3 linked regions of the Homo sapiens genome follow. The protein of the gene in region 2 interacts with the protein of the main gene of each other region in a pairwise test. Each region holds a gene or a part of one and is shown on either strand. Other genes may lie near its edges.

Evidence for each region.
Region 1: the proteins of POU6F2 (region 2) and L3MBTL2 interact in binary tests that used the Homo sapiens proteins (3 or more experiments, as listed by UniProt).
Region 3: the proteins of POU6F2 (region 2) and CCNK interact in binary tests that used the Homo sapiens proteins (3 or more experiments, as listed by UniProt).

What each region holds. Positions count from the first base shown.
Region 1 is NC_000022.11:41,225,772-41,229,421, reverse strand, and holds part of L3MBTL2 (lethal(3)malignant brain tumor-like protein 2), read right to left. Parts: intron 3,629-3,650; coding exon 3,481-3,628; intron 2,761-3,480; coding exon 2,678-2,760; intron 2,334-2,677; coding exon 2,099-2,333; intron 1,904-2,098; coding exon of another isoform or gene 1,848-1,903; intron 1,619-1,847; coding exon 1,553-1,618; intron 1-1,552. UniProt on the Homo sapiens protein: Putative Polycomb group (PcG) protein. PcG proteins maintain the transcriptionally repressive state of genes, probably via a modification of chromatin, rendering it heritably changed in its expressibility.
Region 2 is NC_000007.14:39,337,802-39,341,451, reverse strand, and holds part of POU6F2 (POU domain, class 6, transcription factor 2), read right to left. Parts: exon of another isoform or gene 2,332-3,650; intron 1,811-2,331; coding exon 1,437-1,810; intron 1-1,436. UniProt on the Homo sapiens protein: Probable transcription factor likely to be involved in early steps in the differentiation of amacrine and ganglion cells. Recognizes and binds to the DNA sequence 5'-ATGCAAAT-3'. Isoform 1 does not bind DNA.
Region 3 is NC_000014.9:99,501,855-99,505,504, reverse strand, and holds part of CCNK (cyclin-K), read right to left. Parts: exon of another isoform or gene 3,299-3,650; coding exon 3,129-3,298; exon of another isoform or gene 2,787-3,128; coding exon 2,521-2,786; exon of another isoform or gene 1,895-2,520; coding exon 1,861-1,894; exon of another isoform or gene 1-1,860. UniProt on the Homo sapiens protein: Regulatory subunit of cyclin-dependent kinases that mediates activation of target kinases.

The sequences.
Region 1 (3,650 bases), on a different chromosome or scaffold from region 2:
CAGAAAGCCTGGACTCCAACTCTGACAACACATCTTATTGGCTATGTGCCCTGAGCTCAGATTCTCTCCAATGGGAAGTAATACCACCACCTCCCTCAAACCAAGCCCCAGGCAGTCGTGGTTGTAACTGCTTTTTAAAATCTTTTTTTAAATAAAAAGATTTTTTGAAGAGGGTCTCACTCTGTCACCCAGGTTTGAGTACAGTGGGGTGATCACAGTTCACTGCAGCCTTGACCTCCCAGGCTCAGGTGATCCTCCTACCTTAGCCTCCTGAGTAGCTGGGACTACAGGCCTGTGCCACCATACCCAGCTAATTAAAAATTTTTTTTAAATTAGGGGTCTCGCTATGTTGCCCAGGCTGGTCTCAAACTCTTGGGCTCAAGAGATCCTCCCACCTCAGCCTCTCAAAGTGCTGGGATCACAGGTGTGAACCATCACACTCAGCCCCCGTTTTTGATTGTTGATTTCTTCCCACAACATGCACCATTCCCGGTCCTACCGTTTGAATGGTACAGAGCCTCTGCCTGCTGGATAAATGCCACACCCTCACTCAATTTTTTTTTTTTTTTTGTGCGATGGAGTTTCCCTCTTCCGCCCAGGCTGGAGTGAAGTGGAGCGATCTGGGCTCACTGCCACCTCCGGCCCCCAGGTTCAAGTGATTCTCCTGCCTCAGCCTCCCAAGTAGCTGGGATTACAGGCGCCTGCCACCACACCTGGCTAATTTTTGTATTTTTAGTAGAGACGGGGTTTCGCCATGTTGGTCAGGCTGGTCTTGGAACTTCTGACCTCATGATCCGCCCACCTCGGCCTCCCAAAGTGATGGGATTACAGGTGTGAGCCACCGCGCCTGGCCGCCTCACTCAATCTTAACCCTGCCCAAGGGACCTTGTTTCTGTTTCAGAACATCCTCTTCCCCACATGGTACCACACTGTGGAGCCCACCTCGCTGTCATAGGCCTGCGGCTCTGAAGGATGGCTTTGCCCGCTCCCGCTCTGCCCCTCAAGTGGAACCCAAGCTGGGCTCAGAATCTGTAGAGTGAGGCCCCACCAAGGGAAACGACACCCACGGCCTGAGAGCCAGGTGGAGTCCTGCCACTCAGCTGCCTGCCTTTGCTCCCACCCTCTCCCACCCTCAAAGAGGTCTCGAGGTAAGAATGACAGCCTTGGAGAGACAGCTTCTATTTCTTCCTGTGGCTTTTCCTTTAGAACCTAGCAGCTGCGGCTTGCCCAGGCCAGGCTGTTTTTTTCTGAACATGGGGCATCAGGGATGGGATCCCCCAACCTCAATCTCTTACCTCTTTTCCTCAGCACCCTGACCATGGCCAGAGACTGAACACTCCCTATTTATGGTCTGGGTCCCCAGAGACAGGGTGAAAGGCCCGTAGGCCAAAGGGCAAGGGGAAAGAGACAGGACAGGAACACGAAGAGAGCTACGTCAGTAGGACAGCACCTGGGAACCAGTGCCTGGGGGCTGACCCCCGCCTGCTCCCAGGGACGCAGGCCCACTGCTCCCAGGCCCACACCAGCCTGGCTGCACCGGTGCAGCACTTACTTTTCTTCCCAAACTGTTTCTTTTTCTTCTTTGTGGCCTCTTTGGCCTTCAGCGGTGTGGCCGGTTCTGTTGTTGAAAGACAAGGGTGAAAGAGATGAGAAGAGGGTCCCTGGGAGGACACAGGGCACAGGCGCATCCCGAGACCCCATCCACCCTCCCACACGAGACACCCCAAGACAGGAAGCCAAACCTGGGCAATGAGGAGAGGGCGGGGCTGGAGGAGGGGCCGGAGAACAGCTGTCCCTTCTTCCCACCCTTGTTACCAGGGCTGCTCAGAGGGACCTGGGTAGTTTACCTGGGTGCACAAGGGCACGAACATATGACAGAGTGGGCAAGATGAAGGAAGGAGCTCTGCAGGCCAGAGGGAAAGGGAGACAGAGAAGTCAGGAGCAGGGGCTGGGTGACGGGGCTCACTCTCTACTTAAAGTGGTCCATGAGACATCTCCACCTCATGCCAAAGAACGGAGATGGGCACAGGGGCGGGGGAAGAAGGAAAAAAGAAGAGGAAAGAAAGTCAGAGCCTCTTAGGGCCACGAGAGCCCACACCTGCGGCCACAGGAGGCTGGAGCTGGTAGCCGGTGAGCTCACACCAGCCGACGGGGTAGATGTCTGGGGACTCGCAGTCCACCCACTGGTCGTACTCGCTGTCCCAGCCGTCAAAGTGGATGCTGAGGAGCCGATGCACCACTCGTTTCACCGTGGCCACACAGATGAGCCGGGGCTCCATCAGGTCCACGGCCTCCAGCTTCATGCCCACCTTGAAGCCATGGTTTGGGCAATCCTGGGGCAGAAAAAGGAGGCAGTGGCCAAGCCAGTCAGCTCCCTACCCCAGCAGGCTTGCCCCGGCCCGGAGGCACTTGAAGAACTGGCAGGGAGGGGCGGGGACTGGAATGGCTGCTGGGGCAGCTTCCTCTAGACAATAACCCACTGCACCTCTCCCAGTACCGCCCTCCATGGAAGAGGGACTGGAGTGCCCAGGCCATAGCTGGGGACTTCCCCCTGAAAGTGGCTGATGTCAGCAGTAGAGATTCGAGAGAAAGAGTAGGAACTGCCACCACTGACAGCAGCAGGCAGGGCCTGTCCTGAGGCCACCGCAGGCCCCTTGCTCCACTTCAGTCTCCTCACCATGTTAAAGAGTCTCGATGGAGCGGCTTTCGACTTGGTCTTCTCCAAGTAGTTCTCCCAGTTGAAAGTCTGTGCCTCATAACCTGGAGGAGCAGAAAGCTCAGATGCAGAGGGAGAGGGGGAAGCAGGAAGTGGGCAGGAGGAAAGGACACATGGCTGAAGAAGCTCTGCAGCTTGGTCAGGACCCAGCATGGAGTCTCCCCAGCAGCCTTCTTCTCATCCCCTCAGGGTAGTACCTGCTCTAGCACCACAGTCCTGTTGTATAGGTTGTTCACTGACCAATGGGATAAGTGGGAGCTCTGTTCATCAACCATACACTGGCCATGGGGTAGGGTCAGCCCAGCAGTTAAGGGCTGGTGGTGGGCTCTGTCACCTTTCCCATACACCCTGAAATGCTACACTTCTGGGGCCTGACTTGACCAGGAATCTGGGCTTGTGGCCACACCCTGCCCCTTCTGTTTTGTTTTGAAGACAGAGTCTTGCTCTGTCGCCCAGGCTGGAGTGCAATGGCATGATCTCGGCTCACTGTAACCTCCACCTCCTGGGTTCAAGCAATTCTCCTGCCTCAGACTCCCGAGTGGCTGGGATTATAGGCACCTGTCACCATGCCTGGCTAATTTTTGTATTTTTAGTAGAGACGAGGTTTTGTCATGTTGGCCAGGCTGGTCTCAAACTCCTGACCTCAGGTCATCCACCTGCCTCGGCCTCCCAAAGTGCTAGGATTACAGGCGGGAGCCACCGCGCCTGGACACCCTGCCCCTTCTGATGGCAAGGACAGCAGGTGGTGGCCTCTCTAGTCTTACCTTTTGGCGGTGTGAGCTCAATGTCATTCTTCTGACAGAAGGTGGCCGGGAAGATGGCGTGGGAAGAGGCATGGTAGCAGAACCAGTCCAAGCCATCTGTGGAGGGCCCCCCGTCCACACAGATCATCAGGTATCCATCCAGGAGAACCTGGGGGGTGGGGGGAGCAGGC
Region 2 (3,650 bases):
TGGACAATGAAGACGTTTTTGGACCATGTTCATTTTAGTCCTAGGTCAAAGGTGTTACGTTGTCTCACCATCGTAAGAATTGTATAAATACATCTTGAAACTCCACTCATGAAAATGTTCAAATTGAAAGTAGCCCTGGCCCAAGAGCCCAGAAAAACACAATGACTCATCTCTCCCAAATGTGTTCATTTCTAGGAATGCTTTGGGCCACACCACTGAGAATCCAAATTGGAAGAGACAAAGCTATGGGACAACAAACTAAGTTCTAAAATACCAAGTCTCTAATCCACCTGCCTTTCTGTCCGTGTACCAACCTGTCTTTATTTTGTATACTTTTCTATTTAGGAGCCAAGGATACCATCGCTACTGTCATTCTCAGGCTGGGGAGAGCCGGACTGACTGAGGTTTATACCCACCACTATGGCAAGGGGATGAGATGGCACTTGAAACAGGTCCACAGGCTGCTCACTCTGTTTAACTTTGTCACAGTACTACAAATACACGAGATTGTCTGAAATCTCACAGGGAAAAATGTCATTGTGCAAGTCAAAGAATGGATGGCTTGGCTGAGTTATTAATTTCTGGATCTGATATGATGACATCACAGTCATTATGTTTTGAAGCTAATTTATTTTAAAGACACCTAAGTTAAAAATGGTTTTCTGAAGTTTAAAGTCATATATATATATATATATATATGAATGCACCTATCCATTCCTTCTCAATAGGTAGGTTATAGATGAGCTCTCATGGTTAGCCTGAAATATCTATTTATGAAGCTCTCAGCCTCACAGTAATAAAGTAAACCTATAGAAGTTTTATTCCTTTATAAAGATGCATATTGGTTGAGGCTCTTGGCATGAATTTAGAGTACTTGTTAGTCTGTGGAGTAATGGTTGGAATCTGGGACATAAGACTGGGGCTAAATTTCTTTGCCCTCCTAACCCCAGAGAGTCTTTAGAAAAATAGAAACAAAAGAGCACAAAGTACTTAAGGTGAGACACTGTTGTATTCATAATATAGAGAAATAACCACCATGCCTCATGGACAGTAGATGCAGTTCTCCATGGGGCTACAAAACTGTGCTAGTAATAATTTTAATTGGATGCTATCTTTGCTGCCTTCAAAAAGTATCATAAAATGGAATTATTACAGGCTCCAAATGCACTTATAGTGCTGGCCTCTCACAGAAGGAAACAGATAACATTTATCCTTTGGAGGGCAACAGAAATGGGCTTCTATTTGTTTCGTTTACATGCATCCCCAGTTGCCTTCTAGTTGCTTCTTCTTCCCTATGTCTAAGAGATCAATTTGAATTAGATGCTGCAGAACTGGATGCTAAGTTTTGTGTGGTCCCTCTGCCTTTGGGGATGGCACCACCCCATGGAAAGGTCCTTGGTGCTCCTAGGGGCAGACGGGAAGCACGGGGAGCATACCTGTAGAGGATTGGGTGGCGTGAGCGGTGAAGGCAGGCCATGTCCTGGAGACTGACTAGGTTTCTGCGGGGGGCTGGAGCTCTGCTGGGTTGGAGATGGTTGGTTCTGGTTCTGGGAGTGGGAGTGGGGTTGGTGCTGCTGGGGCTGAGGCGCCTGTTGCAGCTGAGATGTAGGAGCTGGCGGCTGCTGAGAGGCGGGTGGTGGCTGCTGGGGTGGGGTGGGCTGCAGCGGCTGCTGCTGGGACTGCGAGGGCGCCTGTGGGGCTGGTTGCGGGTGCTGGTTGGTTGACGGGGGAGGCTGCTGCTGCTGCTGCTGCTGCTGCTGCTGGAGCTGGAGCTGGAGCTGCTGGAGCTGGGAGTTCAGGGATGAGGTAGCTACAAGGAGAGAAAGCGAATGTGGAGTGAGATAACATGACAAAGTGTCTTGCTGGGTCTTGACAGCCTGTCCAGTGCAAGTGGAGAAGGGTTTCCTTTAGAAAATTCTTGTCCTTGCCCCCTGAAGCTCTTTGGTATTTAAGAGTGTTGTGAGGCACTGGGAGAACAAAGGTCACTTCTGGGGAAAGTTTAGAATTTCTGGAGGACCAGCATATAACACATCAGGCATTACTTTAAAAGGTGGTGAACAATGCAAGCCAAAGGTGTGTGGTAGGAATGGAGATTGTTTTTTAACTACTTTCTCTCTCTCTTCCTTTCCATACTGCATGGGAAATACATTCATGCTTCAAGATTTCATTTAGATTGTTGAAGTCCAACCAGTTTAGTTGTTTTGGTAAGTGTTTGACTGGAGTTAAGAACAAAAAACCAATTGTTTGCAATTGCCTTTACATCCATCATCAATATCATTAATGGTATCATTTTCACTTGCTACTTCAGATCTCCACCCAGTTGCTTAGATGTCTTAGTGTCAAATTTCTAACTGTTTTTTTTTTTTTTTAAAAATTCAAAAGCAGTACATGCTTCTCCATTTTGCAGGGTCAAAAGCCTGAGTCTGAATTTTTTGCCTGCTGATTAAAGAGACAGAACCCCTAAACTGGAGGGATGATAGCAGGTGACTGAACCAAACAGTGTGGTGATTAGACATCAGCACCTGAGGACAGGACAGCACCTAAGGACTGAGGGAATGAAATCATCTTTTAAGATCTTGTTATGAGAAAGGTAGAGTTGGTGGGAGAAAGTGTCTTAGCACTGAGCACGCAAAATTTGTTCTCACATGCCCATGTAGCACTGAACAATTTCTGCAGAAGGAAGCTGGTTAGTTTGACCTAAGAATGGTCTAGAGAAATTTACGGCTAAAAACCAAGTTCACTTTCTTTTTTGCCTAAATCTCAATCTAAAAGCTTTCTAACAAGCCCATGAACAAATAAACATATAAGGATCAATGTCAAACCCACAGGCCTTAGAGGAAAGTGTAGCTGTATTGGTGAAATGACGATGCAACCATTTCCAGGGGTATCAAATACCAATTCTGTGATCTCACATACCATGTAGGGCTTCCAACTTGGTCCAGTTGGGATAGCAAGTCCTCACTGAGCCACTGAACTGCTCTAGGTCTATGCAAGCAGTCCAGTGTGTGGCCTGCCTTGCGTGTAGAGCCAGGGTGTTCTGGGGCTTGTGATGTAATCGTAGAGATAGAGATGGCATGAGGGAGGCCTGGAAAGTACCCCGGCATCATCCCGTTTATTAGACCTTTTAGAGAAAGGCCTGCTTTTGCCATTTCCCCCTTTCTTCTAGTTTACAAAATCACATTTTATCAAAGATGTGGGAGCCCTGCTCTATTCTGACCTCCCTAGATCTTCTGCAGTCTGGAGGATCCTGGGGCAGGGGAGCCTGATCTCTTCTTCTGGTGGAGTTCCAGACTTCAGGGACTTGATTGCATCTGGCCTCCTGCCTGATTCAAATCGAACCTAACCTGATGTCTTTCAGGTGGGGGCACATATGTTAATGCTTATTTCCATGGTTGACTTAAATACCATACTGCTTCATTTTGGTTAGAAAAGCATTTATCTAAATCAGCATTTAGAAACAGGAAAGTCTGGGAATATTGGCAGATAGATGTTGGCAGACGGGTAGGTACAGCAGACCCTAACCTACTAATGAGCCTTGGTCCCAAATATGTCTCCCTTCCTCCATATCCGTAAGTTCATATTGCTTGGGTATTTGTTTTCCATAACAGCAGCTTGACTGGAAAGGCATAAACCTAAGCCTTTGAGTTACA
Region 3 (3,650 bases), on a different chromosome or scaffold from region 2:
TAACCCGATAGATCGAAAATTTTATTTCAACATGTAACCAATATAAAGCTTTACTAATGAGATGTCTTACGTTCTCCTTTCTTGGAAATCTCTGTGTATTTTGCATTGTCAGTGCTTCAGAATTTGACCCAGTCACATTTCGAGTGCTTGCAGCCCTCTGCAGCCAGTAGCCTTCGGCATGGCACAGTGCAGCTGAGTTCCTCTATAAAGCTTCCTCCGGATCTGCCCTTCCTGCCCCGCAGCCAGCATGCTGAGGCCACCATGTTTCCCATGAGTGCCAGCAAGATTCTCCCCATTCCTAACCACTTGCCCTATTTACTGCTGCCAGGGGACTCCTTCTCAAATGAATTTAGACTCTGCCATTCCCCTGCTAAATCTCCAATGGCTTCCCTTGCCTCTGCCAAACTCACAGTCCTCCAGGTAAACTCTGTGATCTGGTCCTAACCCACATTTTAGATCCTATCAGAAGCTATTGCCTTTCAATTCATCACATTCCAGAAAGACTCCTCTCCATTTCCCCTGATTCTCAATTCCTTTGCTCACTTGCGTACTTCCAACTTATTGCTCCATCCTCCCCCTCTGCTCTCGCTGCTCAAATGCAACTCTTCCTTCAAGGTCATATATAGTTTGTTTCCTGCCTCTGACAGACCTGCACGTCAACTCAATTGCATTTCATGTGGCATGGAGTGTAGCCCGTTCTTGTGTCTAACATTTAATGTCGGTCAATTTGAAGCTAATTAAAAAATTCACCTGTAGGCTGGGCACGGTGGCTCATGCCTGTAATCGCAGCACTTTGGGAGGCTGGGGCGAGCAGATCACCTGAGGTCGGGAGTTTGACACCTGCCTGACCAACATGGAGAAACCCTGTCTCTACTAAAAATACAAAATTAGCCAGGCCTGGTGGTGCATGCCTGTAATCCCAGCTACTCGGGAGGCTGAGGCAGGAGAATTGCTTGAACCCAGGAGGCGGAGGTTGTGGTGAGTTAAGATTGCACCGCTGCACTCCAGCCTGGGCAACAAGAGTGAAACTCTGTCTCAAAAAAAAAAAAAAAATTCACCTGTACTGAACTCATCATTCCCTCAAATATACTGGAAAAAAAAAAAAAGTAGCTCTATCATAACTGGAAGATTTCACAGCAGTTTAATGAATGGAACTAAGAACCGAGAACATGGTTCTAAGAACCAGGAACTACTGGAACTAAGAACCAAGTAACAAAGAAAGACAAATGAGTCAATAGGGTCTGTGCCTTCAAAGAGTTCAGTATGATAGGTGGACTGACCCTGTGACAAAACATTTCTAACTTTCTGTTTTGTAATTGTTCCAATTTTGCTCACTCCTTCTGTTTATTTCCAATATTGACATGAACTAACTTTGGGTTCTAGACATGTGACAGCACCTCAACCCAAGTGTGTTTCAAAGAGGCCTTGCCTGCAAGGGCAGCTGGGCTGGGCCGGGCTGGTGCTGTCCGGGCAGCACACCACCCCCTACTGCCCCCCCGCATCTGCTGTGGCTTGGTGCTTGGGAGAGGACTCCTGCTGCTGTGATGGGGGTAAATAGTCTCTAAAAATAAAATTGCAGCAACAGTTCTCCTACAGCCATAATTATACTTTTATATATGTTACTGAGTACATTTTTATTGCCAGTAATGTTTTCTGTACTGATAGCTTCGTAAGAGCACAATTTTAGAATCTATGATCAGGTGATGAACAGAAAGACAATGCTGATGGAAAAGTTTTGTATGAGCTCTAAAGTTAAGATTTAAGGCCAATTTAGATCTGAAAAGAAACAATGTTGGCTAAGAATTTAAAGTTTTGCATATAAACACATAAAACTAAAAAAACATCAGAACAGGAAATTACCTGCTGCTTTGTTCTCTTCTTTGGGAGAAACAACCTGTTACAAAAGAAAATACACAATTGTTAACTGGGATCCTGAGTATGATGAGAAAAAAATGGATTATCCAGGTACCACCAGAATCAGCGACGGCAGTCACTGTGAACAGCCTCGGACAAAAATTATTTCTAGCCTGAACTTTCAGGGCAAACCACGGCACCTACCAGATCATCATTTCTGCTCCCTTCCTCTTTCCATTTACCAAATAAGACAGAATGACTAGCTTTCCTGAATGGTGAGTTCTGAGTAAACACTAAGTTTCAGGACCACTTGGGTGCAGGAAACGGTCCACTGTTTGGGGTCAGGCAGCTGCACAGAAGCAGCATGCACAACGACACTGCTAGGACACGGCAACGACACCGACAGGCTTCAGAACCCTGGCAGGGATGAAACAGGCAGCAGGGCTGGAGCCGGGCAGAGAGCCCCCTCCTGGTTCTCAGAGGCAGCCTGTCCTTGGAGCACCTTTGTTTTCAGGCTCCCCACCGACAAGCAGTCGGACTGCGAGTTTCGGCGAACACCCCCTGCTTCCGGTGTTCCCTGTGCTCGCTTAGAAATGGGAACAGTGCTCAGGTGTTGCCGCCACCTGGAAAGCCTGCTCTACCCAGGGCCTGCTTTAGCCCACTCACCACGGCTCGCTTAACCTGTCGGGGAGAACTGGGCTGCGGAGAGGGTTTCTTGGGCTGTTGGGCTGGCTGCTGCTGCTGGGCTGGTTGCTGGGGGTCCTTCTGCTGGGGCTGGGATGGTTCGGAGCTTTGAGACGGCTGTGACTGCTGTACTTGCGGCACTTGTGGTGTAGGCTGAAGAGATGGGGGCTGTTGCAGCTGATGGGGGGTGTGATGAGGCATCTGTTGTTTTCCTTGTGAGTAAAGATCCAGGATTTGGTGGCAGATGTCTAAATGATAGCCAACAATTACATTTTACACAAATTGGTATTTTAAATAAAATTTTACCTGGATAAAGAATCAGTTATGATACCCCTACGAGGACCTAAGCATGAATCACATTTACAACTCACCCCATCTTCGTTGTGTGCAACACTGGTGTGTATTTTTAGTTTACCAAAAGTATGTGTTTGGACAAAGTGGAAACTATTAGATAATTTAATTAATGATGCTTCTGAAATATTGCTCACATATGTCTATCTGGGAAAATCCATTCTTGGGACTCAGGGTACACATGGAAGAATCATCTCAACATGGAACACCCTCACGAGAACGCTTAGCATGCCTGGTACCTTCCAAAACGTCGACCGGGACATCTTGAACAAACTGCTCCCACCATCTCCTATACATGGGTTTGGAGGTCCATTCTTGTATTTCAAATTTGCACAAACGTCCTGCGAGATACATCACTGCTACTGCTATGATCTCTGGTTCCCACTGCAGTGACAAGGTGGTGCAGAGACTAGTTCAACAAGAAAAAAAAAGGTTAGATAATATGATCTAATATTTATGATTAAACCAGTGCATGGAGATGCCATAACTAACCATTAATTTGCTTATTCTCCCCTAAATTTAATTAAAGTACTATAAATAAATAAACTCAAGTCTTTACTCTTCTAAAGGTACCCGACTAAGTTACTTTAACCATAGTTAGTAATTTCTCTATTCCTTAAAGAATCAGAAGAATTCTAGCACATCCAAAAATTGCTACACCAATGAAAATGACTTATGTTATTTAAACTGTTGAAATCCTAGCCACTCAACTGTTTCTTCAAATGAAATCTTATGGAGGAAGTCAAATGTAAGAGAAGCTT